2 linked regions of the Homo sapiens genome follow. The protein of the gene in region 2 interacts with the protein of the main gene of each other region in a pairwise test. Each region holds a gene or a part of one and is shown on either strand. Other genes may lie near its edges. The genes, in order: C3orf52 and ESAM.

Region 1 (15,127 bases), on a different chromosome or scaffold from region 2:
AAATCACAAATGGATAAGTGAGACCAAGGCAATTTAGCAAATTCTACTATTTCTGTATTCACACCTGTGTCTTCCACTTGCTGTTTTATTTAACTCACGGCTACTGTCCTAATTTTAGGGATGCTAAAATAGTTTGTTTTAAAAGAGGTTTGTTTAAGAAAGCAGTAGGTACATTATGTTTACTAGACAGGCCCTTGGACCAGCTAAGCGACAGGGAACCTGGTACATTATGTTTAGTTACTGTTTTCTTCTCAAAGTTAACCAAAGCTAAATAACTTTCCTATGTAAAATGTGCTGACTCCCAAAAGAGGAGAAATGCAATGGCTTGAGCTTGCATGTGTCACAGGTTTGTGGAGCCTTCAGCCAGGTGATGGTCTTCAGCTAAAGAGCCAGCTGCATCTTGGTATCTCTTCCTCTGCTAACTTCCTACTTTTAGCAAAATTCTTTCACTTGGAACTCTAGCTGATCCTTGGCCAGGATCAGATCCTCAAAAGGAAATATTCAGTTAGCAGTGGATATTGTACAAGATGTAACATGGCTTAGAGGAAAGAGTGTAGACCCAGCGACAGATCATCAGTCACTCAAATCCTGGTTCTCTCTCTTCCTCCATCTGTGACTTTGAACATGCTACTTGGAGGCTCAGCTTCTTCACCATCAACAGGAGGATTACATCTAATGCAGGCAATCATCTATTACAGATGCCGAATAAATGATATCAAAGAGCATAGAGAAACAAAAATCTTTTATGATGTACGGAAAAAAACCATGCTGATACAGCTGGCTATTCAGGGTCACCCAGCAGTCCTCCAGCAAGGTAGAAACACCAAATCAATGAGTTTATGCTAGAATTTTTCACATGGCCACTGGACCATTGTGGAAGTAGACTGGTTGAAATATTCTTAGTATGACATAGTAAGTTATATTTGTTTGAACCTTATCCTGTGAAAGCATTATCTGTCCCAAACAGTATATGCCTTTTATCAGGGACACATTAAATATAAATGTTTAACCAAAGAAAGTTGTTCTTATAATGTAATTATAACAGGGATTTATAAGAGGGAATTATAAGAGGGATTATGAAAGGGAATTACTTTTGAGCAAGGGGAGCCATTTGGGAGTGCTTCAAGATACCCAATATGATATACACAATTATGATTTGTCAGTCAAAAATAATATTAAGAACAAAAAAAGAGTTAAAAAATTCTGATATGAGTGTAATATACTTAATATGTAGGATGTCTCAAATTTCCAGTAAATAAATTTTAATGTCCCAAAATACCCACTATGTCTGTATGTAACACTGATCCTGTTTCCCCTACATTTCATGATTTCTAATGAAAGCTGTGCACTCCCTTTGCAGAAAATGCACATTCACATACACACACATTTGTATACGATGTGTGCGGGGGTTAGGGATGCAACCCCTCAGTGAAAGAGTCCCTGTCCCTGATAAAGAACCTGAGCCTGAGCATTTAAATTACTCTCTCGAGCCACAAATATAACCAGAAAACTCCTCCTCCCTCATGCTGGTCTTAAAACTACATAGCCAAAATTCAGAGGCACAATTTATGCCACAACTGCAGACTTTGTGGTTTCCGTTTCACGTACATACTAGCATCTATAAATAATCCCTTATTCTGTGAATAAATTCTTATTTAAAACAGAAGAGAAAAATAGGAAGAGGGCAAAGATAGGGCGGGAAAATCTGTTGACAACAAGTTGAAATGCTAACGTTTTTTAGGACAAACTTGAGTGATAGATGCTTCGGATAGTCTCAGGGATGGGGAAGGGCATGGACAGAACAGGAAATAGAAGTCTCCAGGATTCCACAAGGGCTCCAGGGAAAAGTAGATTCTGTTTCCACTTATCTCTGTTCTTTTCCAAGCCTATAGCCTCAATTCAGAAACCCACTTGATCTGAGTGTACCTTGGCTCTGCCAACTGTGAAGTGGACCAGTGTAAATTCCGTCTACTTTCCTACAGAATTCTCTTTTGCAAGGCACTTGGTGAAGCCTTGAGAGGTCATCATCATCATAGAAAGCCTCCTGCAGTCTGAGGGCCCTCCCTCTCCATTCACCCCTGACCCCTGATCACTTGTGCTCCTTAGGGATTCCCAGATGTCAGCTAAGCCTGAACTGAGCCTGCCTCTGGGGATCCTACCTGAGCTGGTGGCCATTCATAGTATGTGGTTGCCCTGTGGGCTAGGCTTTGCCCTCAACAAGCTGTGGAACTCTGGGCTGGTCCTCCCAGCTCTCCAGAATTTGATTTCCCAACTGTGAGATGAGGGAGGTGCCTTTTGAAGCTGAGTCTGTAATCTCTAGTCACAAAGGAAAGATTCAAGGATGTCTGTGGATAAAGCTGCCAACAATGCAGCAATTGTTAATTCACAATGCAGTGTAAATTAACTTATTTTAAAGCAATGAAAGAGTGATGGGAGAGGAGAAGGAGGACATTGAGAGATTTCTCCCATTTTTTCTTAGCATTGATCAGACTCTGAATAGGACAGGATTCATGTCCAGAATTCACATGTAAAAGACAAAAGAGAGAATATGTACCTCATCCTAAGAAGACACGAACATGTGTAAAGGAAGGCAAATCTTCTTATTCAAATCCCACCAGTGCTTCAGGATTCGGCTTCAGTCCTACTTCCTACAAAAAAACGTCCTCTGATTATACTGACCACTCTTTTCTCTGACCACCCGCAACCCTACTGTTTCTGTTTGTTTGTTTGTTTGTTTGTTTGTTATGGAGTTTCACTCTTGTCACCCAGGCTGGAGTGCAATGGCGTGATCTCAGCTCACTGCAACCTCTGCCTCCTAGGTTCAAGCGATTCTCTTGCCTCAGCCTCCTGAGTAGCTGGGATTACAGGCGCCTGCCACCACGCCTGGCTAATTTTTAGTAGAGATGGGGTTTCACCATGTTTGTCAGGCTGGTCTCGAGCTCCTAACCTCAGGTGATCTGCCTGCCTCGGCCTCCCAAAGTGCTGGGATTACAGGCTTGAGCCACCGCGCCCAGACTGCCTTTGTTTTTGACCCCTGGGTATTTTTTTCTGCTGTTTCCTGTTTCATCTGTACTGATCCTGACTCCTTAATAAGACTAACAGCTTCTTTTCTTATTGTTGTCTTCTCCACTAGTATCCCCATAGCCTTCCATAAAACACATCATTTTTTCAAATCTGTAGAACTAAATTAAATTGAAAGGCAAAAAAGAATCAGACACATGGCTGGAATTTTTGTTGGCAGAGGAACAGGAGCAGGTTCTGCTGATATGGCTGTTGCCATTCTATCCATATCTAAGTGACATCCAGAGAAGAGCAGTTTTCTTCTCAAATCCTTCAATTATTAAAACCTCACTATGTACCAGGCATTATGCTCATCATGATGTTGTGTGATGACCAGTAGATTTATCTCCTATAGCAGAACAGTGCATTTGTAAGGGCCGTTTTTTTTCAAACACCACCAAATATGTTAGTCACAAAGGTTAGTTTTTTCCCATACCATTTGGGCAGAAAAGTCAAATCTATGGAAAGTCCTCTCTATGACTTGCAAATGGTCAAAACCCAAGACAAGGTACTTGCATCTTGGTGCTTTCTGAACAAGAAGGGAAGAACAAAACCAAATCCTGCCTCCAGACATGAACAGGCTGTTCCTTCAAGTCCAAGCCCTTTCAGATACCAAGTCCTGCCAGAGAGGGCCTCAGAGAAAGAGGAGGGGATGGCCTCTGCCTGCTCTTGCTGGAACAGAGGGGAGAACCCAGGCCGCCCCAGCCAAACTTGGCTTGATCTTATTCACCCAGAAGAGGAAGCTGCCCTAAGGGAAATGAAAAAAATTATGCTCAACACCATTTACTGCAAAAAACAAACAAACAAAAACCCAGCCCAAAGCTCAGCCAATGGGAATGCAACAACACAGATGCAAAAATAATGTATTGTAAATGTTTTTAAATCATTCTCCATTAAAATTTTTCATTATTTTCTACAAAATACAAATACACTAAGGTTCACATTTAACATGCAGAAAATAAAGAGGAAGAAGAGAAATCCACTAGTTTCACTAGTTTAAGGAACAATCACTAAAATGAGACAATGATCTATAGTACATGTATCTTCTAGTTAAATAGGAAAGCAAATTCACATTATCCAGAGTCCTGGGTCATAAAGAACTCAAGTCAAATCTAGTCTGAGGCAGACACTCTGGCTCGTGCCCGCACACAGCTGCCCTTCACACTGACTTTAACCCAGGGCTCATTTAACTGAGAGGCGAGATCTCTCACAATACAGCACAAAACTCTTTCTCCTGGTAAATTTCTTTTCCCAACAAAACAATCAGTTCCCTCACAACAGGCAATTCTGTATCTGTAGACAACCAATACAGTTGCTAATATTCCTCCTACCCCCCAAATAGCTGGCAAAAGCTTCCAAGAGTTTATTTTCAAAGAAGAGTGGTTCTTCTTGTATCACAACCATCTGTAACAGGATACACAATCATTGCCTGAAGACACTGAGTCCCACAGGAAGGTTTGTAGCACTAGGCAACAAAAAGCCAATGCGTAATATCCAGAGCAGATATTAAACAGCCTTAATGATTCTCTAATGGAAGTTTATAAAAATATAAATGGAGTGACTATCCAAAGTGATAGTAGTGTGCTCAAAACTCACAGAGACCCATATTTCCAAAAAGGTGTTCAGGAATCACAGGAACAACGAGGAGCTGCAAAATAATGAAGAAACACATAGCTCCCGTCTGTAACTAGCTATATACATAGATTTCAAAGTAACCTTGGTGGTGTTCCTAAGGCTGGCTGGCTAAGATACTCAGGTACAGGTCATGGAAGTAGACACAGAACCACACTGCTGAGGTCTTCTAAAGTGCCTTCCTTTTCTTCACAGCCTGGCTTAGAGGTAGATCAAATCGAATGGTGGGGGGGAGGAGGATGACTTCAGTGAATAATTGGCTTAGTCTTCGTAACCTGGCTGCCTGCCTCTCCGTGCTCTACCAGCTCATGCTTACGCGATCCCACCTAAAAGAAGACAGTGCACCTCTGCACTAAAGAAAAAGTAGCCCAGGTGGGTGGAGTGCTTCAAGAATAGCAGTGCCATGATCACGCCACCGCACTCCAGCTAAGCGACAGAACGAGACCCTGTCTCAAAAAACAAAACGAAACAAAACAAAAACAAACAGAATACCAGTGACCTCCAACAGTGGGACATACCCGCTGACCCTATCGCCCCCACCCTAGCTGGCTTCCTGCCTTTGTCAAGACTGGACCCAGCTGAAGCAGTGCTCGGGAGCTGTTTTACTGGGCTTAGAGCCAGACTGTAGAATCGGGAGAGAAAGGAGTCTCCACCCCTCTGGTGTTGCTGGTGCTTCTGTATTAATCCACAGAATCTTTTCTGCAAAACAGAGTGAATTCCCTTCATCTCCAGGACTTGGTAGAGCACTGCTTTCAGACAGAGACCAGCCTCCATCACTTCATTCTAAAAAGAAAACACAGATGAACAAAAGTTACTGATTTTTAAAACCACTATTAAATGCTTACGTTTTCATTTCATTTCATTGAATTTTAGTGTAAAATCTTAGATAAAATTGCAAGGTTTATACATTCCTAACAGAGGAAATTTAGTCTTCAGTCCAACACACACACACCGCTCTGAATACATTTCAAAAGGCAAATGACATTTATTGTTTCTTGCTTATTTGTTTGGGTAGGATGCATGAGAAATAATTTTGATGATGTGGTTTTTGGGTGCTAAGGACATTTTAACATCCAGTCCCTTTTCATAATCTAACCATAAACTCTAAAATTTCCGTTTTTAAAACGTGTAAAATATACTGTGAGAAATTCTGATGAGAGAAATGGTGTGAACCCTAGGGCACAGCAGGTGCAGATGCAAAGCCCCAAGCAGACACAACACAGGGGGAGCCCGCCGGGGTCTACAGACCAGGAGTCCAGCCTCGCCACCACTGACAGGACTGACAAGATTCACTATTCTCCCTACCTGGGGCTTTTTCCTCTTCTCTCTCACAAAAATCCTGGTTTTGCCCTTTTTCCCTACTCAGTCTACTAGCTGACTCCTTCCCATGTGAGAACAGTACCAAGTACCTCCTCTGTGTCCAAAATAACTCATGATGCTGACCTATTCTTCGACCTTTGTAAAACAGACTTCCCCCTCCTAGCCCAGGGCCCCACTCATCTAGGAGGTGAAGAAGACCAAAGATAGGGAAGGGTGAGGGATGATGGACTTAAAAAATTCCTTTATCATTATATTTTAAGTTTTTATTTTTATAAGGCATCCAAATATGCATGCAGTCAGGTCAAAATAATCGCCGTATTTCCAAATTAGAGAATGAGAAGCAAACACACACAAAACCCCTCAGGAATCTAAATTACAATCTAATTTTGGATTCTGCTTCTAAAGCGCACATATACAAACCCCAAATGGACCATAGGCTGGCCTCAGGGAAATACTCGGAATCCCTGAAATTGTCTGTACAATTTTGTGTTGTGGGGAGAAGTAGGTACATTTTTTTTTCCTGGGGAGAAGGTACACAGCTGTCTTCAAATTCTCTAAGGAGCACACAAACCAAACAATTTTAAGAATCTTTGCTCTTTGAAGACTAAGAACATTACCATTGTGGGAAACTAGTTGCCTGGGTAATCACAGGGCGGGGATGGTAATCCCCCAAGCCCACAGCTCATGAGCACGTAGAAACTGGCGTAAGAACTCATTCCATCCCTCTTGGTCCCTCCCAGGGCCCTGGGCCTCTCCCTGACACATTTTCCCTTTCTCTAGAGTTTGCCTCTGAGCTCATCCCCCATCTGCCTGCATGCCTGCGATGAGTCCCTCTTCTTCTTTCCTCACTTCCCAACTGCTTCTCTGTGCACCCTTCCCTTTGAGAGGGCAGTGACACTCACATTCTGAAAACATAAAATGGCTCAAATATTGCACATTCATGCTCTGGAAAGTGGGACATGGGGTCACAGAAAACCCCACATTTTCTCAGCATGTCCCGTCAGAAGAAATGTCTGAGAGAAAGAATGCAATTTCCAGAAGAGCAGAGACTTTGTTCCACTCACAGCTGCCTTCCCAGCACCTGCTGGAGCACCAAGCCCTGGGGAAACAGCTGAGTCTCTTTGGCCAAGCTCAGGGTCTTCTGGGAGCCCTCCTCAGGTCTCACAAGCAGCCTGCCCTTTATCCTGTACTATTTGAACCTCTCAGCCTTGGAAGCCTCTTAAACCTTTCCTCAGACCTCTGCCCATCTCCCTGGCCTCCATTTGGAAAGAGCCAGTAACAATTTTTGCAAGGGGCCTAAGAAAATCAAGACCAACCACACCACAGCAGCAGCCCCCACAGGCATCGCAGGCCTCTTCACATGGGAGGAGGCTGAAGGTTTCTGGGTTTTTTTTTCTTTTGAAATGGAGTTTCACTCTTGTCACCCAGGCTGGAGTGCAATGATGCGATCTCGGCTCACCGCAACCTCTGCCTCCCAGGTTCAAGTGATTCTCCTGCCTCAGTCTCCCGAGTAGCTGGGATTATAAGCACCTGCCACCATGCCCGGCTAATTTTTGTATTTTTAGTAGAGATGGGGTTTCACCATGTTGGCCAGGCTTGTCTCGAACTCCTGACCTCAGGTGATCCAACTGCCTCGGCCTCCCAAAGTGCTGGGATTACAAGCGTGAGCCACCGCGCCTGGCTTTTTTTTTTTTTTTTTTAATTCCTGTAACTGGGGCACAATCTCTTCACTCCACACACATATAGTGTCTGCCTGACCCACAGACACACTTTATTCAGGATGCTCTGTGAGGAAGATCTCCATTTATGAGACTTCCAGTGAGCTAAAATTTGGCCTTCTGAATGGCATTCTTAAGAACTGTTTTACATAACGTTCTGCCTTCTTAGGCCAACATTACTCTTGCCTCTCATCCTCAAGAAACAGTGTCATCATCATAATAAACACCTTGTCTTGTACTATGCACTAACACTTGTGCTTTTAACCCCCTGTTCCATGCTTCTGATTCTAGACCGTTAATGCACCTGCTGCCAACCACAACTACTTCTAATTTGCCTTTCATTCATTCAACTAGTATTTACTGAGAACCTACTCATGTGGAGAAAGTGATTCTGATGGACTGTGGATGAGAACATAAAATATTCAAGATTGTTGGCATTAGGGGCTAAATAAGAGCAAACAAGCCTCCGAGCGAGGTATCAGAAAGTGAGATCAGCAGCAAAGGCCAGAGCTTCACTACAAAGCAATGGAAGGATATTTTGAGGGCTTGAAGCCATTTGGCCTTCTGACCTTCCTTTCTGTCAGGTTTTGTTCTGAGTGTCAAAAGTTCTCAGATTCTGATAAATGGGGTGTTTGTTACATTTATTAAAGAACATATCTATTTCCTTGTTCTGTTCTTAATTTTAAAAGTTGACAAGTAAATTTGTCATAATTTTCTAAGGAAAGGAATAAACTTGTCTTTGTATACCCCTCTATTAATTTCTTAATGGTCTCAGTGGCCTTCAACAGAAAAAGAAATAGGTTCCCCATATTGAGATACTCTTTCAGCAATTTAGCTGTATCATTTATTTCCAATTCTTCAATTCTTACTTCTCTTGTGAAACCACAGTATCTCCATAAAGGTTGCTAATCATGTTGTAAAGTAGGATACAGGGCTTAGAATGTGGGTGAACTGCATGAGGAAACATGTAGCAATGTTCATCTTTATAGTTGAATTATCTTTTCCATAATTGCTCCCCAACTACACTGTCTAATTATGGAGGGCACGGACTGTGTAGCCTCCACAGAGAGGGGAACATCACCTCACAGCAACACCATCTGCTGAGGGGATGAGTGAATAAATGAATAGTCTGACACAGTACCAAGTCACCACAGTTGCCAAATCGAACCAAGCCAATTTGACCCCAATCTGGTTCACCTGTTTATTGTCACAACTCTGACTTCTTTACTTGCTCTACTTACCATAGAGCAAGAGGGATGTTGGATCAAGCCCCAGACTCTCACAACCAGGTATATTCTGATCACGGAAATCCTGTAGCAAAATGCCCAGCACCAACTCCTCACTCATCATATACTTCATAAAATTTTCATCATCTGATGGAACCCCAAATTGCAGGTCATACGTTACTGTGGCATTTTCACCACTGAAAGGCAATGGAAGACATTAAAACATAAACAGCATCATACTGCAACTCAAGAAATGAATTTAAGCAATAACTTTTTTTTTTTTTAGTTTTGCATGTTCTTCCAGTACAAAATAGCAAAGAATGTTCTGTCCTGGAAGAACATACTGTCCTATAAGAATCCTCTTCCATAGATTCATCACAAAAAGTTGAGGTGATCCTAACCTCCTCCTTCCACCTAGTACCTATCCTCTAGGAATCCACTGGGAGAGGCCATCAGAGGTAGAGGTAGAGGTGCCCATCTCCAGTCAAGATGCTGAGAAGATCCCAGGCTTGACCCACCATCTGTCCCAACCCCAGCCTTCATCCCTTAAGGCAAGCCAGGGAAGCCTCCCCTTTTCTCCACACACATTCCTTCTTCATGTTCTCAGCATTGCCCCCACAAAGGTGTGCCAGGGATATTTAGTTTAACCAATTCTTTATTTGACCTATGAAAATGTTTAAGGCACAGCCAAAGTTTCCTACCATTGGCTGGGTCCAGAACTTCTGAACGTTGACAGAGACCACCCTGTGTATCAGCAACAAATCAGGCTTCCCTGGTTTGTCCCCAAAGTGAGAAACTTTTCTGTCCCATTTCCAGAGGCCCCTAGGGCAAGATAACCAAGCCCTGTAACTCTCAGTAATGGGACCTAAGGAAAGGGAATTTTCATCTTCCTAGAACATTTTTTCCCATTTCCAAAATAAAAATAATCAAGGGCTACCCTCCATTAATTAGTGTCTAATGCTACTCTTTAAATGCTACTTCAACATTTAGTTTATTCATAGTTATCCTATTACTTTGGTTTAAGATGGGCCAGATTAAGAACCAGCAATAAAATAATGAGCAGGAGGCCACATCTGAGACTATCACCTTGGGGAAGTTTTGCAGATGCACCAGTCCCATTAGTGTGAATCAGGCCACTGCCCCTGCTAAGGATAGGCAAAGAGCTCCCTCTTCTGGCTACAGGTCACATAGGCCGATACTCTTCGATCTTACAAGGTGGCTGACAATTGAGCTTATAAACTCTACTACGGCTGGGAGATGTGCCAGATCCTGCAGATCAAATGAATAATGGAGAGTCAGGACTCTGAAGAAACTCATAGTTTCAAGGATGCCACTAAAGGAGGGCCAAAAAATGCACTTTCAAACTGCAATCCAGCTAACCTAGTTTGCAGGTGTCATAACTTGTTCCCTGAGCTCTGCCCTCTAATTATCGCTAATGATGATCAACACCTACACAGCCAGCCACCCTGCATTCCCAGGGGCAAGGACTTGGGCTGGCTAATGAAGAGGGCCAGAGTCTGACTTTCAGAAGACCAGGTCAGAAGCTGAATGGGAAAATCAGGCCACCTAGCCTGGCCTGGCCAGCCCATCCTAATCCCCCATGGCAGGTCACAGGGTAAATTTACATGAGGCTGAATTTTGAGAAAAGAGCAACTTTCAGGGCCTTTCGCCCAGCTGCCCACCACTGGAGTGAGTCTAGCAGCTAATAAACCAAAGGGCATTTTTCCAGGTTCTAGCTGGGCCAGTCCAGGGCTGAGGTCACAATGCCCCTGTAGACACAAATGCATGTGCCAGGGATTTAGCCGCCTCCCACCCATGTGCAGCAGCACCCTTTGGGAAGCAATGGCTTTTCTTCCTCAATTCAATACTTTAGGACCTCTGCCTGGACTTCTTGAAATAAAGTGCAGAGATGTCACCGTAAGTACCATGTACACTGGGTCTGTTTTGTTTTGTCTTGTTTGAGTCTCTCTGTGTCACAGGCTGGAGTGCAATGGTGCGATCTCAGCTCACTGCAACCTGCGACTCCCTGGTTCACACAATTCTCCCGCTTCAGCCTCCCAAGTAGCTGGGTTTACAGGCACGCGCCACCACGTCCAGCTAATTTTTGTATTTTTAGTAGACATGGGGTTTCACCATGTTGGCCAGGATGGTCTCAATCTCCTGACCTCATGATCTGCCTACCTCAGCCTCCCAAAGTACTGGGATTACAGGTGTAAGCCACCATGCCCAGCCCATTGGGGGTCTTTAAAGAAGGAGATCAAAGGCAGCCTGCACCATATGTATCTGTAGACTTCAGGTCTGTTTGGCCCCACACCATGGTGCTACCTACCACCTGCTTTATGTGCCTCCCCTCCCAGGTCTGCTAATATTAGGGTTTGGAGAACTTATAGTTTGAAGGGGGAATCTCAATATAATACAACTTTTGATGGTCATATTCCAGAGACATCTCAGGCATAATGGATAATGAAGCTTTGATATAAATTTTAAGTCATCTCCAATAGTCCCAATGATGTAAAAGGATAATAAATGGACTCTACACACATACACCCTGATGCCTACATCTCAAGAACATTAAAGATGAGGAGGAAATTTAAAAAATAAAAAATACATATGGGTGTGTATATCCTATGTGTGTGTAGTATTTGTGGTGCCTATGGTAGATACATGAACAGAAGTAATTACACTCAACTCTTGACAGCTATTACCTCCATGGAAGGGAATGGCATTAGTTATTGGTGGTGGCAGTGGAGAAGAAAGGAGGCAGAAGGGAGACTTTTCCTGTGCATACCTCTTTATGTCTTCTTTTTTTTATTTTTATTTATTTTTATTTTTTTGACAGAGTCTCACTCTGTCACTCAGGCTGGAGTGCAGTGGCGCAATCTCGGCTCACTGCAACCTCCCCTCCCGAATTCAAGAGATTCTCCTGCCTCAGCCTCCTGAGTAGCTGGGATTAGAGGCACCCACCAACACACCTGGCTAATTTTTGTATTTTTAGTTGAGACAGGGTTTCACCACGTTGGCCAGGCTAGTCTTGAACTCCTGACCTCAAGTGATCTGCCCGCCTTGGCCTCGCAAAGTGCTGGGATTACAGGCGTGAGCTACCACGCCCGGCCCCTCTTTACATCTTTAATACTAAACAAGGAGAATGTACTCCTGTATTACTTGTGCTCCTCAAAAGCAAATGCCTATACATGTATCACTCGCATCACAGCACGACCTGAGATCTATTTCTACTTCTACCCTTAGCTTATTTGAGCATTCATTGTTAAACAGAAATGGTTTACCTGGGACTGGCTTTTCCCCTCTTCTGTGTGACCCTGGTTGAATTATACCATTAATCTGGGCTTCCTTTTTCTCATTTGTAAAATAAGGGAGTTGAGCCTGTTGGTGTAAAAGACCTTCCCAGCACTGACATTCTGTGATTCTATTACAGGTTCCCTTCATGCTCTGAGGCTCTGGGAATCCCTGCTAGGTAAATGACGAAGGGTGGGGTGGGGGGATCTCTTTCCAGAGAAAGAGAGCAAAATGTAATGTTCCACACTCTTACCTGAAGTCCACTATTTCAACTGAAGTAAAATAACGACCCAGAGAGGGCGATGTACTGTACACATCTGTGAGCTAAACAAACAGAAGCAAATTAAACCACACACATTACCGACAGATCATATTACACATCACCTGACAAAGCAAAACTGCTTCTAAGGCAGAGGAGATTCCACTCCAGCCTGGAATCAACGTTATCTGGAAGCTCTGGATCAAGAATTGAGCCCACCATAAATCAAAACTCAAGTTAATGCTACTTCAAAAGAACTCCATTTATAAGGACCAAATGACTCAGTTTCTCTCAGAAGTTGCACTGGCACCCTGTGGCCTTAGTGGTGAGAATATCAGCAGCTGGAGCCCACACAGGCCTCACAGACCATAGGAAGGAGAGAAGAGAAGACCCCAAAATGGCTGCTGGACAGCAGCAGCACAGACCACTTAGCACCTGGGACATTGCTTAGCCCAGGGCTTCTTTCTCCCTTCTCCAGAGCTTCAGTGTAAAGACAAACAGCCATGCTAAGCCATGGGTCTAGCACATCCCCTGGACAAAGAGACAAAGAGGGGAACTGCAAAAATATGGAGGCTTTATTTTATGCATGAAATATTGCAAGCATCATAAAAAATAATGACACCTGTGTTTCCACTACCTAGCTTTCATGTCTTCATATTTGCTATATTGGGTTCAGCCCTTTAATTTAAGAAACAAAATAAAGCTAAAGTGACTCCTACATACTATTCAGTTCCTCCTCTCTCTCTTTCTTAATACTAACCATCATTCTGAAGCTGGCATGCATCCTTTCCTTGCATATTTTTACAAATTACTACTTATTTATGTAATCATAACAAAATATAATTTGTGTTTTTATTCAAATAAAAGGCACCATATTCTACATAATCTTCTAAAACTTGCCTTTTTTCACTCAAAATTACATTTAAGATTTACCCATAAAGTAAATCTCAATGAAAGGCATTCACCTAACTCCTGCACAGATTCCTTTAAATGAGTATACCAGCCTATCCATTCCTCTGATGATGATCACATGCACTATTCTCAATTTTCCCCATCACAACTTATGCTGAAGCAATCATCCTTAATGTCTCCATGCATCTCTTCTTGGACATGCGGGAGTTTCCAATGGGCATATGCCAAGAAAAGGAATTGTTGGGTTTAAGGGTAGGTGCATCTCCAACTTCACAAAATTGTTCTCCCTTTCCCACCCCTCCCAGCAATGTATAAATATCCATTTCCCACATCCTTACCAGCACTTAGTGTTACCAAACTTAAATTTTTACCACTCCGAGGAGTATAAAATAGTGCTTCACATTGTTTTAATTTGTACTGCCTCGCTTACTAGTGAGGTTGAACATCTTTTCATGTTTATTAACTCTTTGGGACTTTTCATCTCTGAATTTCTCACTCATTTCCTTTCCTTCTCTTGGCTTATCTGTCTTTTTCTTATCTATCTGAAGTGGTTAGTTTTATATTCTGGATACTAGTTGTTGATATTATGTTACAAGTATCTTTTCCCAGGCATTGAGTAGTTGTGTTTCAGATATCTGAATCCTAAACTAGTAGTACTAGGAACATGTGCCATCCCCAGCTACAGCCATTATGGCTTAATGACCTATTACTTTATTCAATAACAAGCAGTCGAACATACAAAAAACAGCAGTGCCCTATGGGGAGCTTACCCTGTTTCCCCTCAACTCCAAATGGAATGTCAAGGACGCTGCACTTCCACAATACACTCCCATTTAACTCAACATGTACAACCCATATCTCAAAGAGAACAAAAGATGAGAGTGCCTGCTATTTCTGCTCTTCTAATCTTGTCACTACTGTTGTGATCTTTATAAAAACCTGGCAAAACAGGCATTAATATATCTCCCCTTTTTACTGGAAAATTAAACAGCACTCCATTCCATGAGATGAAGAAAACCTGTCCCAGGTCACTGTGCTAGTAAAAGGAGAAGCCAAAATTCAATCCTACATGTTATGAACACTAAAAACCAGCTTCTTCCCATCTGACCACACTACCCAGTGAAGAAGAAATTGATATATATACAGTGAAGGAAAGTGTCTCCTGAATATCAAGGAGGAAAGAAGCTTAAAGTGACAAAAACTTTCGGAGAAAATGACTGAGTCATTGTACAGCTCTTAAGCCCCAATGCACAGGATGTTGCCGATAGGCTGACAGTCATTTAGAAAACTCGGGAACTAGGAAAGCAGCTTTCACGGGGATGCTGTGATGGAGAGGAGGATGAGGATGCTGCAGAGGAGAATCTTTTCAAGCACTAATGTCAAGCACTCATGTCTTTCTCTTCCTTTTGGATTGAGCTTCCTATGGCAAAGGTGATATTTATCCTTCCTTCCAGTCTTCTCTGCTTCCTCCTTCCCTTCTTTCCTTTATTAATCTTTAGGGCCCAGCACAGTGTTTTGCACATAACAGGCTTTCAGCAAATTTTTAAGTTAAAATTTTAAGGTAACATATGGAGTGGTCGACTAAATCATTTTTAGTGTTCACTCGAAGATTCTTTTTGATCATGCTCCTCTGCTGTACTTAGGACATATTTACATTTGGGGAGCTGTTAGTCACACTGTCCACTTTGGGCCCAAAGAAGTGAAAT
Region 2 (15,824 bases):
GCCACAGTGTCCACTGTTTCCAGTAGTGTCCTCACCTAATGCTGGTGCAAAGAAAGTCTGGAAGGATGGAAGCTGCCGATCCCACTGGTATTGGACAGCGGGCTTACTCCTTGGAGACTGGCAGCTCAGGGTCACGTTTGCCCCCACATGGGGCACACCCTGGAGACGGCAGGATGGAGGAGCTGGAGGAACTGGGCAGGGGGAGACAGATTAAAACCACACCCAGGAGACCCACAGATCCTCTCCCTCTGCCCTGCACCCTTCTGTCGCTTCATTTGTTCCTCCTCCAACTTTTGTCATTTAGGAGAGAGACTCACCAGACCTCCCAGTGCAGGTGGGGAGGGGTCCGGAAATCTGCTTCTCACTCACCCAGTACATTGAGTTCTAAGGTTTTGATGCTGTGGCCCCTAGATTTGCCTTGTTTGTCTTGCACATTCACGGAGCAGCTGTAGGGGCCAGAGTCTTTCTCCTGGAGACCCTCCAGCCGCAGGGACAGGTTCCGGGAGGGCATGGAGTAGACCAAGGATACTCCAGGTTTGCTTGTTGTGACCCCATTGATGTAGGACAACACCTGGTGTGGGGCATAACACATCCCCGTCATTACTACATGTGTCTACTGTGCCTACAGGCTCAGCCACTCTCCCTCCCCCAGCTCGCATTCTCCAAATGCCCCTCACATGCACCCATTCTTCTAACCTGAACCAGCTCCCCATTCACCTTTTGTCCCTAGCCCCCTCTCACTGCCCCTGGGTCCTCTTCACCAGAACAGTTCTTCGTTCCTGCGCATTGTCTCATCTCCCAATTGCGGTGTTTAGAAAGGTGACATAATAGTGGGAGGAGGGACATGTAAATAGGAGGTATGTATATATGCAACTCAGACTGCTGGGGTGGATCCAGGTTTGTAAGACCTGAAACTTACACAATGGGGAAGGCATCTTGGAGGAAAAAAATATTAAAAATGTATTTTAAAAGTATCAAATGAGGCTGGGCACGTTGCCTCATGCCTGTGAGCACTTTGGGAGGCTGAGGCAGGTGGATTGCTTGAGTCCAAGAGTTCAAGACCAGCCTGGGCAATACGGTGAAACACAGTCTCTACAAAAAATACAAAAATTAGCCTGGCATGGTGGCGTGTGCTTGTAGTCCCAGCTACTCAGGGGGCTGAGGTGGAAGGATTACTTGAGCAGGAGCGGTAGAGGCTGTAGTGAGCGAAGACTGCACCATTGCATTCCAGCCTGGGCAACAAGAGTAAGACCCCTGTCTCAAAAAAATCCAGCTGACTTCCTTGAACACAGTTTTCAGGGGTTCTGAACATTGTTTCATTCTCTTCTGGGGTAAATCTGTATTTGGATGTAAGCCCGGTGTCAAAACAGATGGGTGGGAGATTGTGGGAGGAGATGGCCCCTTGGCTCTCAAGGTGGTATACAGGGGGGCAAGGTGACAGATGAGAATCATTTGGGAAGAGAAGTGGCCTGTGACTTGACAGTATTCAAAGCAGAGAATGTGAAAACAGAAATATGCTAACTTTTTTTTTTTTTTTTTTTTTTGAGACAGAGTCTTACTCCGTCGCCCAGGCTGAAGTGCAGTGGCTGGATTTTGGCTCACTGCAACCTCCACCTTGTGGATTCAAGCAATTCTCTTGCCTCAGCCTCCCAAGTAGCTGGGATTACAGGCGGGTGCCACCATGTCCGACTAATTTTTGTGTTTTTAGCAGAGACGGGGGTTTCACCATATTGGCCAGGCTGCTCTCGAACTCTTGGCCTCAAGTGATGTGCCCACCTCGGCCTCCCAAAGTGCTGGGATTACAGGTATGAGTCACTGAGTCAGGCCAGAAATATGCTAACTTTTATAAGTCGTGTGTGTTACTTCCCCTAAGCGTTTCCCAGTCCTCAACTTCCATTCTTCCCCTCCTCCTCTCCTCCCTCATAACCAAGTAAAATGCCTCTCACACTTTTACAGTATTTTGTGTGCTGGATTTTTAGGGAAAGCCGGCAAAAGATAATTGTTTGGGAAGTCTCCAATATCAGAACAAAAACTGAACTGGTGAAGACTTCTGCTTTTCCCTGAAACTCCTTCCCCGGCCCCCATTCCCTCTCCACCCCTCCCACCGCTACCAGCTCTTTGCTTACAACCCCCTCTGGGCGCAACTTGCCGCTGGCTGACAGGCGTTCTTCCCTCACCTGATCCTCCTTTTCTTTCTGTTTGAAGAACCACATCACAAAGGGCACCTCCCATGGCTGGGATGAAGACACCTCCCCGTGCAAGGTGTACCACGCTGGAAGCACCACTTCCCCTCCCTCCACCGCCTGCAACCGGTTGGCGGGCAAGTGCAGTTGCAGCTGGGCCCGCGAGGGGGGCGCTGGAGACAAGAGCGAGGCGTGAGTGCCCAGGACCGGCTCCCAGCTCCGCCCGCGGACCCTGCCCTACGCGGCTTCACCAGAGAGCGAGGAAAGTCGCTTTAACTGGAAAGAGGAACCTTGCGGGGTCCGGCCCCTGGAGGCCTCAAGGGGTGCCCAGGGACCACTGGCTCAGTGTCCTGCTTCCCATTTCATCACGACTTCTCTCCACCGCCAGCCTCTGCAGTTGTAGCGGGGATGGGGACACATTTATATGCATTTATTCGTATCCAGAGGCGCAGATTTCTGAGCATCAAAGAGAGGGGGCAGATTTCCAGCGAGGAGGGGAAGATATGAGAAGAAAGGGTGGACCGACTGTTTCTGTCGTACGCGCCACGTAGCCCACTTGCTTCCCTAGTTTTCCTGAGGGAGAGTAGGGATGCTGCTCCGGGCCGCCAGGGTCCCTCACTCCCGAGTTCTCAAAGGGCGGAGGGGTTTGGGAGGCCGTCTGGTTACCTATTAACCCTGCGGCTCCTTCTGAGCTTGCCAGGAGCTGGAGAGAGCAGAGCAGCCCAGCGCCCAAGCCTGACCCAGTGAATGCGATGCTCCCCGCCCTCCCGCGCAATCTCAGAGGCGGGCTTCCCTCGGAAAACGGAGGGTTGAAACCCAGAAAGCTCCTCGGAGCCCTTCTGGGGTTCGGGCGATCTGGGCAGAGAACTCTCGGGTGGCAAGGAATTAAGGGCAGCGCGAACGACGGTCTCTAGACAAGTATGAAGCCTCCCCTGAGTGTGTCCGGCGCTCAGGGGGTGGACCGGGGTGTTGGTTTCAAGGAGGGGGCCATCGTTTGCACCACGGCGTCCAGAAATACTCATCCTTTGCCCTTCGGGGAGGCAACAGAGCAGCCAACTGGTAAGCCCTTTGGGGAATAACCTTGGGCTTGCACACGGCCAGGCCTGAGGATGATCGCCGCTCCAGTCCCGGGCCCTACTCCCTCCAGGCCTCGGCCCTCTGCCTCGGAGCGGAAGACGCCACCTCCGCGTGGCGAGCAGGCGGCCAACGCCGCGGGAAGAGGCCGCAGCCAGGCCCCGCTCTCCACCCTCGCCCTAGGAGAGCCAGGCTGAAGGCCTCTAAGGGCTGGGAGCCGATCCGGCCAGGATGCAAGCCTCCCCCACCGCTTCCCGGCTGCGCCGTACAGAACCCCCACCTCTGTTACTTGGCCTTCGCAGCATCCCCCTTCCCATTTCCTGGAGGATCTCTGTGGTCTGGGCAGGAAATTTGTACCCAGTGATAAGGCAGAAGACAATGAAGGGGGGGCCACTAGACCGGAGGCTCTACGGGAGGAAACAATCCCCGCCTCAAGGAGCTGGACGCCCCCTGGGGACCCGGCCCGCTGGCCATTCCGCTGAGGCCGGGCACGCCTGGAGCCTGCAGGTGCTGCCGGCTCTCCCCCAGCCTTTCTACGACACACACCCGGCGGCCAGAAAGGGTTTCCGCCGGGAAACTGCCTGGGGCCCAGAAGGGGCGCGCCCTTCCTTCACCTTGTGGACCACCAGCGACCTCCCCAGGTCCCACATTTATAATTCCACTTTCCAGAAGGTAGAGGAGAGTTAAAAGAGATAGTAACGGACACACTGGGGTCTGGGCACATGCTCCTTGCCCTTCGCCCTGTCAGAAACTAGGAACAGAAGAGGGCCTGAGGCTTTTCTGCTCTCCCTCCTGGGTGTCTGCTGGCTCGGAAGTCACCAACTGGTCCGTTTTTTTCGGTCCCAGGGTCCACGGAGCCACTGGGAGAGAAAAGGAGTCTGGTTGGGTCTGATCGAAGGACACTGGGACAGCCCAAGAAAGGGACCCTTCCGGCCCACAGCCCTCTCCGAGGCCAGAGTGAGGGAGCCGGCAGGGGCCGAAGGAGAGCGAAATGGGCCCGCTCCCCGGGGCTATTTTTAGTCTCCCTCTTTCTCTGAGAAACTCCCCCCGCGGGCTTCTCACGCCCCAGGGGCAGCAGCACTGAGCCGCCGAGGAGCCTACTGAGCCGGAGAGCCTCCTCCAGAGCCCAGAAGAGCGGAGCCGGGCGCCTGCACGTTGCACCGGGGTCACCAGTGCCATTTAACCCTCGAGTGGCTGGCGGGAACTGGGCAACCCCCCAGGGGGACCGATTGGAACTTTTGAGTCCAGGTCTTCAGTCTGACAAACTGAGGCTCAAAGCTGGGGTAGGACAAAGGGTTGCAGATGAGCAGCAGGTGAAGCCTGGGACACTCAGGCAGTCAACTTGAACTGTCCTCCCTGGCTTCAGAGATTCCCCCAGCCCCCACCCCCCACAAGGAAGGGGGATAGAGTTGGGGTGGAATGCAGAAGGAACAGAGCTGAAGTTGAAGTTGGGAAAGGCGGGATGAGAAGTCTGAGGGATCCTGGAGCAGGCCCACCAAGCCCAGAGGGACAGAAGGCTACTTGTGGCCTTGGTGTGGCCTGGGGGGCTGTACTTGAGACTCATTTTGTCCAAGGACTATAATATTGCATGCCCCGACACCTGTGGGGCACAGAACATGCTAAAGGGGACACTGGTGATCCTCATCTCTGTCCCCATCATTGTAGAATTTCACTCTACAGCTTCCCAGGCCTTACTTGTCCTGACATCCTCCAACCTGAGAAATGAGTTAAAGTCAATATAGCTAAACCCACCCTTCACTCCCATTCGAGATCCTTGAAGGGAGATGGCAAGAAAGCTGAGGGACAGCAAGTGAAATAGTTTAAAAGGGCCTAGTCCTGCCGGGTCCTCTCCCAGATGGAGTTCTGAGCCACCCCAGCTTCAGCTGAAGCCAGCGCCCCTGGAGGCCTACAACACTTCCCAAACACTTGCTCCAAGGAGGTTCCCTTCCTCTCTGACCCTTGGCCACCCTCCTCCCAATTTCCCCTCTTCCCTTTGGCTCTGGAAACCAATAAGGGTGGTGGGCCTTGGGGGGGTGGGGTGGTCACAATTCTGTTTCTCTGTGCGTTTGAACCCCTCCCCCATTTCCTGTGTCCCAAATGACCTCACGGTCGTCCTTTTGGGGCACCTCCCTTGATTCCCAGGGCAGGAAGCAGGAGGGGGCAAGAGAGAGCATCTGCGCTGGGGAATTGACACGAAGTGCGTGTGTCAAGCCTGGGGACCAGGGGTATTTCCCCGGGGGATCTTCCTCATCAGCTTGTATGTGGGGTCGGGGATGAGAGGGGGCTAGAGTTAAGTCCTTAAGCTCTTTAGCCAGTGTCTCATCTAGCGGCTCAGCTCATCCGGCTCTGCTGGGTGGGGGGTGGGGAGTGGACAGGGTGAGGAATGGTTCCGATAACTCACCCCAGAGGTATCCAGGTCTTCCGAGAGATGCCCTTACCTCCCCCCGCCATCCGCCCCCACACCCAAACTGGGGGCTGTCCCCGACAAAGCGAGAAGTCAGCGCCAGCCAGTGATGCCCTGGAGTGGGATTAGGAGGTCAGGGGAGGAGGGCGAGTCGTGGGACCCAGTTCCGCAGCAGTGGCCAAAGTTCTCCCTCAGGGTCGAACTCACCCCATCCCGCATCCCAAGTCCCCTCCAGGTCCGGGTTTCACTCACCGAGGGCACTCAGCCCCAGGAACAAAAACCGCAGCAAGTTGGTCACCAGGGGCCCCGGGAGGGAAATCATGGCCCTCCCTGGCCGGGACGGAGTCAGGGGCGCCAGCCGCGGGACGCACGGACCTGCAGGTGCCGAGGCTGCGCGACGGCCGGAGCGTGCGCGGGAGCCGAGCCGCTGACACCCAGGGCGGCTCCAGCCCAAGTCTGCGCGCCTGTGTGCCGGTGGCGGGGTGGGGACCGACGGCGACAGCGGGGCGGGGCATTCGAGGGGGCGGAGAGGTCGCCGTCCTCCCGGGCGGGGCGCGCGGGGTCCGCCGCCCGGGGGCGCCCCCAGCGCGCGGACGGCGGGACCCTGCGGCCTCCTCCAGGTCTGGACGCAGGGAGGGGTGAGGTAAGCTCTGATGCCCCACGAGCCAGCCAGGTACGAGTAGAGGGGGAAGAGGAGGCTCCAGAACTATCCTGAGCCGTAACCTTCCCTTCCGCCGGGGTGGGATAGGAAGGGTGACCAGGAAGGGTGGGAAATTTGGGGACTATCCGAAGTCAGAACCACCCGTAACACCTGACATGTAAACGCTCCTGGGCTCTGGCTCCAAACTTGGGGGTGCCGCATCCCCGGCCCAATCAGGGCGGTCTTCCTGAAGGAGGAAGAGGGGAGCAGCGTTTTCCAGCTGCAGGGAGAGGCCGGAGCGCCGGCCGCGCGGGCTCCCTGGCACAGCGGGAATCTGTGGCTTTCCTGGAGGCGGGGGCTGCGCGGCCACCGGAGCGCGGCAGCGAGGGCGACGGCAGAGGTCGCGCGGGAGCCCAGGGCGCCCCGGGACGCGCCAGCGGGGAATCTTCACCCGCGGGCAGGAAAAAGCGCTCCGCGAGTTCAGCAGACCCCAGCCCAGGCTGGAGGATTACCCCGGCCTGTGCCTCATACTCCGAGCAGGGAAGGTTGGCACAAGGTAGTCCCGGGAGCTGAGCAGGAAACTGAGGCAACGTGCGTGCTGCTCCCAGCTTAGCCCCTGAAATGAGCGGCGTACGGGCCTGATGCTGACTGGGGAGGAGGGGCGGCTGCGGGAAGGAAGACAGGACAGTCCCTCCGTTTCTTCTTTATCCCCCAAATCTTCAGTGCCTCCCATCCCCGCAGCGAAAGGCTCAGGCGCGCTCTGATCCTTTAATTCCCGAGACTAGATCTTGGTCGCTGTGAATTGAATTTTACGCCCCCCTTCCCGCGCCATTCGGTCAAAAGGCACCTCTGCGCCCTCTGGCGGCCGCCGCTCCCTTACAGAAAGGCACGCACCTGTTCTTGCTTTTCTGTCCAACAGCCAAAAAAAAAAAAAAAAAAAAAAAAAAAAAATGCTTCAAACATCCCAGCACAGCTCAACCACCCAGCAAAGGTCAGTGAGGGAAGAAAGCATAACAACGAATTCCTGACGCTGCCCGCTCTGCGGGCAGAGCTGTCTGGGAAGAAAAGCAGCCAGGCCTGCGGGATTCCATTTACTGCACATAGTTTTGCTGTTTTAACAGAGTGTAGTCCCTGGGCCCACACTTCACACAAGATCTTTTTCTATACAGTGCCCCATATGCCCTCTCAGCTGCTTCTTTCTAGTGTGACCTGCCTGGCTCCTCTTCAAATACCTGCCATGCAGTGGCTTTGAGAAATGCCTATGCAAACACAAAACTGCTCATGCAAACCCTAGAATCTAGTACTTGGCAGCTCAGTGGAGGCACAGACAACAGGAAGAGATACCTGCCAGTCTCACACTCTTGTGTAGGGAGCTACAAACTTGGACTTGGCCAAGCAGATTGTGTGGTGGGGTTGGGGGCTGTTGGTTTGGTTTTCCTATTCCATCACACTCAAATTTTTCTTGGCTTTAGTCTGCATTGCAAACCATCTCTTGTAAACACCCCTCCTTTGTTTCCAGACAAGTCACCCCAAATAAGTAACTCCTTCCAAGAGAGGAAGTACAAAGTCTTTTGGTTCTAACCCAGAAACACCAAGTATCTAATCACACAGGCTGTGCTTATCCTGATCAAGTGCTACATAAGGTGTAGCCTCAACATTCATTCCCTGTAGCTAACTTTTCCTTCAGAATTCAGATCCCAAATGACTTGTGACATGGGAAGTAAAGCTGCAACCAATGATTTGTAGTCAGTGAATGTCTCCATGTGACACAGGGGCAGTCTCTTCAAGATTCTTTGACCGTAAAGAATTGTCCTCACTGTCTCCTGTCTCCTATTTCAGCTATTTCTTTCTTCTGACCCTGAGGGCAGTCAAGTCGTAGAAGTTAGCAGAGCAGCTCCATTACTTTGTGAAAGTTTTCACCAAGATGCATTTTAGGGTGGACTGCTCTCCACCCTGGTGTAAATCATGAATGCTGACACAGATGATCTATGTGCGACCTGGGAACTGCTTACATAAACGTGTGCAAGAGCTAGTTCATAGTTTCATATGTTAGAGACTTGCAGGTCATTAGTGTTTCTTCCAATCACATCTCATGTTAGATTCCGAAAGTAATTCCTAATATTTACCTTTACATTTGAATATACTTTCTCTGTCCCCCTTGAATCAGTTATAAGGCTTCATTAAGGTCTAAATATTCCATTTCTTATTTTCGGCAGTGCTCATAGTTATCTGACATCCTGCTATCTTCTTTTCTAGACTGTTCTGGCCAAAGAGACTGGAGATCCAGTATCAGCAAGCTACTTTCTTGGTAAACCTCCATTTCCCAATGCTCATCTTTGTCCTCTACCCCCACCCATCCCAAGGCAAATGATGAAAACATCTATTGGATCCAGCCTTTGCTATCTTCTCCATGCTGCTCATAGTGGGTCTAGCAATGTCCCATTCTCGGTAATGTTTGGTAGGTCTAAAACATCCTCACGAAATGTTCCCCAAATGTTCTGCTCCAGCTGAGCAACTAATAACAATGGGAAGATGCAGAAAAAAAATGCATGGAGCATAATGTTAGTTTTGGGACTCGTCAGTGGCAACGTTTTAGAGATGCCATGAAGAATTCCTGGTAATAATCCTTCTTCCTACAGCATTTAGCAATGAATACTATGGGATTATGGCTAAAAGATGGTCAAGACTGCCTCAGCCATTAGGATCAGAATTCTAAGTTCCAAAGAAGAGCAAACTCAAGAGGATTTCCTCAGGCCTCTGACTATAGATGCTGCCTGGGGAGAACAGGTGCTACACTCAAAACATTCTCATTTTATTTATATCCTCCCTGAACTAGTACCCAACTCCATAACCCCAGACTCAAATAACAGAAATAAAAGCCATCTCACTGATTATAAGCTCTCTAGTTATTACAAAAATAAATAAGCATCAATCAACCAACAGGCATCAGAATGAGAAAATCACTGATTTGAGACATTCAGGCTGCAGGAAAAGAACACTTTTTGTTAATATGTAACTATATCTTCAGTAGTACAGAAAAATGAGAAGAACGAGAGTTCTTACCTGGATTTGCGGCTCACTTAAAGTAGAGCACCTGAGATGCTGGGAAATCATAAAGATAAATAACCAATCTAACAAATTCCTGCCATGAGACCAAAGTGATCCTTGACTACTCTATTAGTAAGCGACTCTGAGCCAAGAGTACGAACCTGTAAGTGGAGTGGTGGTTGGCCCATTAGAAATCTCTGAAAGATCTAAACATGACAGTTACCTTCCTACTGGACTCATACTTCTCAATTCCCTCTCCTAAAAGAATACTTTTGGGCTGGCCCCAGTGGCTCACACCTGTAATCTCGGCACTTTGGGAAGCCAAGGTGGGAGGATTGCTTGAGGACAAGAGTTTGAGACCAGCTCGGTGGAAACATAGCACCATCCATGTCTCTACCAAAAAAAGAAAAAAAAAAGTGAAAAACATTGCTGGCGTGGTGGCACTTGAGCCTGTAGTTTCAGCTGCTCAGGAAGCTTTGAGGCAGGAGGATTACTTGAGCCCAGGAGTTCGAGACTGCAGTGAGCTATGATTGTACTACTGCACTCCAGCCTGGGTGACAGAGCAAGACCCTGTCTTAAAAAAAAAAAAAAAAAAAAAATTTCTACTGGATCTTCCTTCCTTTTGAGAGATAGCAAGATTACATCAGTTTTCCAGTTGTACTCCTTGAGAGCTGCCCCTGAGTACTGAGTGTAAAAGATGAGGAATGAGTCTCTTACAAATTGATGTACTTAGGGTCAAAAGGATTATCCTAGTCATTTTTAGTCATTTTTCAAAGAATTACAAAATGAGATGTTCAGTGACCTTTGGTACTCTGACAGTAAATAATGACATTGGTCAGTGAGGTATAGAGAATGAAAGGATGTGAAGATACCCTGCTCTGTTTGTTCTCTTCATTCTTAGCAGTCAAGTCAGAGCGCAGCCCCCACTGCCAGTGCAGCCACACTCTGCTACAAAAAGCTCAACTAGTACGCCAAGGGGCCAGGAATTACTTTAATTTTTTTTTTTTAAAAAAAGGTTTAAATGGCAACACAACTGTAAAGTTGGTACATCACAGAAACAAAGGTCTTTGCAAGCAATACTGATTGGAAATAGCAAAACACTTGGCTGGTGAAAAAAATGAAAATCTAAATTATATACAATAGTAGCTAAGGGTGATATTGAAAAAGTCTTTTTAACTGTGAATCAAGATTTAACTTGCCATTATCTATTGCTTATTTATTCAGGGTTGTAAATATTACTTATATAGAGACATAGAGATGTGTAAAAATGAAACATTGTGAAAAAAATACAATTTTTCAATTTCATATGAAACTCAAAGTATAAGTTTTGTCCAATATGGAATGTACCTACATTTGTTTATATTAGGGCTCTAAAATCCATTTAAAAATTGTTTTTCTGTTTTTAAAAAAGAAATAGCTGACCCACCATGCAAGTTCGCTATATATCTTGCTTGCTCAAAATGAGCATTTTCAGGTGAGGTCTGTTTTTTCTGGCCCAAGTCTACTATGATTCCTTAGAAGTCGTACTGGCCCAATTGAAGAAAGGGTTTCCATGAAGAGTCTGACGGCGGCATCTGGATGAGGGGTGGTCCGGGTAATGGGAAGTGAGTAGAGAAGAAGGAGCTAAGAGCCCAAATCCTTATGAAGGATGACATTCAGTTGTTAAATTTTAAGGGGTATCCAATGGCTTTTTCCAGGCACTCAACTAAAGAGCCTGCGGAAAGAAAATCCCTCTCTACTTCTACAAATTTGATGTAGATGGATTTGGGGGAAACTCCGGGATCCACAATACAGTTCTGAGACAAAAACCCGTTAATACCAACCCAATCTTTGCTGAAGGTTTTGGTATTCGCTTGGAAATGTAAAAATAAGCACTGCTGTAGAGTCCTGACCTCAGCAATCCCGAGGTAGCAATAGATAATTCGGGTGGGTTCTATTTCCACCTGTAATGAGGCTTGTGCTGAAAGGGTTTCCAGGTCAACCCGGCCCTCTTTTCCTGGGTCCAGGGAACTTTGCTCCATGTGTGGTGAGAGGGGCCTCTCAATACATTCTTCATAGCCAATGGCATAAAGGCCTGGGCTTTTAGGAATACCCCCAGGCAATAAATATTGAACAACATTCCCACCAGTTGGTTTGGAGTGGGCAATGGGTATCCAGTCAATTTCCATGTGCAGCTCCAAGCACCTAGCTTCGCTAATAGTGATCTCTAAAAATTTGTAGTAAACATTTTTCCAGTTCATTTTCTGCACTCGGGTCATAATGATCCGTCCTTCAGGCTTCTCAGAGTTGAAGTACTCCCGAAGTCGCTTGCCAAGGGGCACCTGGGAGCTGATCTCAGCATAATGGTAACGGATATCCTCTTTCCAACGGGTGTTATAACCAATTCCAAAAATGGCCAGTTTATTAGAAAGATGGAGCCTTGAAAAGTCTGTCCAGCTCTGAAAAAGTTCCCATTTCAACTGTACCGATTCCAAAATCTGTACAATATTCTGCATGATGTCTCTCTTCCTGGAAAGACAAATAAAAGTCAAATTCCCTAAGTATCTAGAACAGCGGTGTCAGATAGAACTTTCTGTGATGATGGAAATGTTCTGTATCTGCTGCCCAATATGGTGGCCACTAGAACATGAAATGTGGCTGAGGTATTACATTTTTAATTATATTTAGTTTAAAATTACATTTAAATAGCCACATGTGACTAGCAGCTACTGTACTGGGCAGTGTAAGTCTAGACAATCAACCTATTAAAATGAAAAGAAACACACCCCTAGCAAGTTTCTAAGAATTAATGATAAACTGCTTTCCATGACTTCTACAGCCTCACTGTATAATCAGAATCAATACCTTAGACTCTAGGATTTCAGAAATCTATGGATCATAATATTTTAAAGTGGCTATTATGTCTATGATGGCCTTCAGACCTACCTACCTACCAAAATAAGGTGAAAAATGCTGTATTTAGAAAAGTATCTGGCGTCACTTAAAATAATTAACAGCTTAATTTCTAACCTGGAAATTCAGAAAGTCCAATAATGGGCTTTGTGTGTGCTGTGGGAAAATATACAACTGATTATGGCTAATGACCTTTTTAAAATGACATTTTCTATTTGTCTGAAATTCATTACTAATCCCAAAATTAATAGAAGTCAGGTTAGCACAGAATTAAGATCTGGGAATTCAGATGGAAAAGGCTCACATTAGGCTTAGATTTCAAGAGAGCAACATTCAAGATAATAAATTGAGACTGTTCTAGAAAACCCTTTATAAAGGGAAGCAAAAATATAGGAATTATTTCAATTTTGACTCATATACTTAACAGAAGAAGACAGAAAATGCTGGAATTTTTATTTCACGGGCTGCTTAAATCATGTAATTTGTATATATATGAAGCTATATAAAGTTTGCTTCTCAAGTACAGCAAAACTTTGATACTGGAAGATTGGTTCGTTAAATATTAACTTGGCAACAAACTACTACCCTCCACATCAATTACGGGTTTAACCTATAAAAACACTCAACTACCACACTTACATACAATCATACACAGGCAAGAAAGGGGGTGTGCGTGCTAACAGCTTCTTGAAAACGGGCTCTGGAAGGAGCTTGATCCTTGAGACTTTTCCTGCTACGTTCTCATACCTTCTAGGGGAGGAGCTTTGGGAACATTCTGGCGAGGCTTCACGTGGCCATTCTCAGTCTGTCCTCTCGCTCTCCTTGACTTTCTTTGCAAGATGGCAGAGAATTAATATTTTGTTATCAGCTGCTTCTTGGAGCTAAGACTGCCCTGAATTTACCCTCTATCCTTTAGTTTGTCTTGAAAGCTTTCAAGTATGAGAGTGGCTATCTAGATGAAATCACTACCTTCTCAGGGAATTATTCCTCTTCTCAGAGGAGACAAAAGCACTTGGTCAATTTTATGATGTCTGATTGTGGTGCTTATGAGGCTAAGACATAGACCATATTTCTGCATAGGTCGATGCTTTAAAGGAAAATTATCTTTCATAGCTACCATCTTTCCCTGCCCTCCTTTGAAATGTTTTATTGATCTTACAGAGGACTATGCTAAGGAGTTGGGATGGAGAGCAGAGATTTTTGTCTATTATGCTCAATGAAGTATCCCAATGCCTGACATATAGTAGGCACTTGAGAAACGTGTGTTGAATAAATGAGCAGACTAGGGGATTAGCCAGGTTCAGCTAATCCCACCTATACCTACAGAGAAAAAGAAATCCCATGCCCAAATCACGTTATTTTTTTCAGCATTGTCATGGCACTAATGCTATAGTCAGACCCTGCAAAGAACCATTTTAAATAAACTCTTGCACTGGAAAATAAATGGCCTACCCAGATCTTGTTCAGAATCTCTCACCCTGAGAGCTAAAACCTGGAGGAGAGGCAGCACAGGCTGGATATTTCCTCAGAGTCTGTCAGTTTCCTGCCCTGCTGATATGAGCCTGAAGCTGATTTGGGCTCAAGATTCAAACCAGCATTTCAAAGCTCTGGAGCACAATGAAAACTAGACTCAGTTATTTAAACAATTCCTGAGAACTGTCTGTTAGATTTCCTGGTTTTTGAAGTTCCAATCACCAGAAAAGTTTAAGTGGTTTGAGATTGGTGACATGAAATCCATAAAATTTGAGTTCATTCCTAGTTATACCAACTGGGCCTCCCTTGAAGGTCCTGAATGATTATAAGGAAGAGATAGGACACTTTAATGAAAAAGCCAGTGACTTTTTTGGAGAATAAAGGTTTGAAGGTATACATTTGTAATAACTCTTTTTTTTTGTTTGTTTGTTTTTTTTTTTTTGGAGACAGGATCTTGCTCTGTCACCCAGGCTGGAATGCATGACTCACTGGAGCTTTGACCTCCCAGACTCAAGTAACCCCCCACCTCAGCCTTCTGAGTAGCTGGGACTACAGGCATATGCCACTATACCCAGTGAATTTTAAAAATTTTTGTGGAGATGAGAGTCTAGCTATGTTGCCCAGACTGGTTTTTAATTCCTGGGCTCAAGCAATCCTCCCGCCTTGGCCGCCCAGGATGCTGGGATTACAGACATGAGCCACCGCGCTTTGCCTTGTAATAACTCACATTTTTTTTTCGAGACAGAGTCTTACTCTGTTATCCAGGCTGGAGTGCAGTGGCACCATCTCGGCTCACTGCAACCTTTGCCTTTTGGGTTCAAGCAATTCTTGTGCCTCAGCCTCCCGAGTAGCTGGGATTACAGGTGTGTGCCACCACGCCCAGCTAATTTTTTGGTTTTTTTTTTTTTTTTTGAGACAGAGTCTTGCACCTGCGTGTCCTGGGTTCAAGCAATTCTCTTGCCTCAGCCTCCCAAGTAGCTGGGATTACAGGCACCCGCTACCATCCCTGGCTAATTTTTTGTATTTTTAGTAGAGACAGGGTTTCACTATGTTGGCCAGGCTGGGCTTGAACTCCTGACCTCGTGATCTGCCTGCACTGGCATCCCAAAGTGCTGCAATTACCGGCATGAGCCACTGCACCCAGCCTAATTTTTGTATTTTTAGTAGAGACAGGGTTTCACCATGTTGGACAGGCTGCTCTCAAACTCCTGACCTCAAGCGATCCACCCACCTTGGCCTCCCAAAGTGCTGGGATTAAAGGCGTGAGCATGAGTCACCACGCCCAACTTACTTTTTACAACATTAATCAGTTTCCCTTCCTTTGGTACACTTTGATGTCACACTCCTAAAAGACAACTACTTCCCAATAAGAAATGGCCTTAAACTTACTGATGTGGGCGATTAGCTTCTTTTTTGAGGAATGAAATAATGGCTACAATTTGGGGGAAAAACTCCTCATCCCTGAACTCTCACCCTCTTTCCAGACATGGAATCAGATGACAATGGGAATTCTTTGATTCCAAAGAGAGACTCTGAAAAAGAAATGAGCATTTACAAAGGGGAGGTGGTAGTGGTGTCTTGCTGAATAAAAACAACTAATGTGGCCGGACACTGTGGCTCACGCCTGTAATCCCAACACTTTGGGAGGCCTAGACAGGTGGATTACTTGAGGTCAGGAGTTCGAGATCAACCTGGCCAACACGGCAAAACCCCATCTCTACTAAAAATACGAAAATTAGCCAGGCATGGTGACGCGCCTGTAGTCCCACCTACTCGGGCTGGAATTACAGGTGCTCACAGTGAGCCAAGATTGCACCACTGCGCTCCAGCCTGGGTGATGGAGTAAGACTCTGTCTCAAACAAACAAACAAAACAAAAAACAACTAATGTTTTCTTGTTGTGCTGCCTGTTACCTATCACAGCCCTTTTTGCCTCTTCTCTACCATCTCTCAGACATCAAGATCACATGTGTGGGATGAAGCACTCAAGAATAAGTGGGTGCTATCAATGCTCCAAGGTTAACAGGTAAAAAAAATGAATGGCGTTCCTTACTTTCCCCATAAATTTTCGGTCAGTATATTCTCCTCAGTAATTGTATTTAATCAGGGAC

The links.
Region 1: the proteins of ESAM (region 2) and C3orf52 interact in binary tests that used the Homo sapiens proteins (3 or more experiments, as listed by UniProt).

The regions. Positions count from the first base shown.
Region 1 is NC_000003.12:112,106,990-112,122,116, reverse strand, and holds the end of C3orf52 (TPA-induced transmembrane protein), read right to left. Parts: intron 12,575-15,127; coding exon 12,504-12,574; intron 9,317-12,503; exon of another isoform or gene 9,219-9,316; intron 9,154-9,218; coding exon 8,972-9,153; intron 5,476-8,971; coding exon 5,471-5,475; coding exon of another isoform or gene 5,119-5,470; 3' UTR 3,907-5,118; downstream 1-3,906. UniProt on the Homo sapiens protein: Has a role in LIPH-mediated synthesis of 2-acyl lysophosphatidic acid (LPA). LPA is a bioactive lipid mediator involved in different biological processes, and necessary to promote hair formation and growth.
Region 2 is NC_000011.10:124,756,172-124,771,995, forward strand, and holds the start of ESAM (endothelial cell-selective adhesion molecule precursor), read right to left. Parts: upstream 6,120-15,824; 5' UTR 5,984-6,119; coding exon 5,914-5,983; intron 3,243-5,913; exon of another isoform or gene 2,963-3,242; intron 2,357-2,962; coding exon 2,178-2,356; intron 572-2,177; coding exon 370-571; intron 192-369; coding exon 36-191; intron 1-35. Other genes in the region: MSANTD2 (myb/SANT-like DNA-binding domain-containing protein 2), read right to left, coding at 11,005-11,857.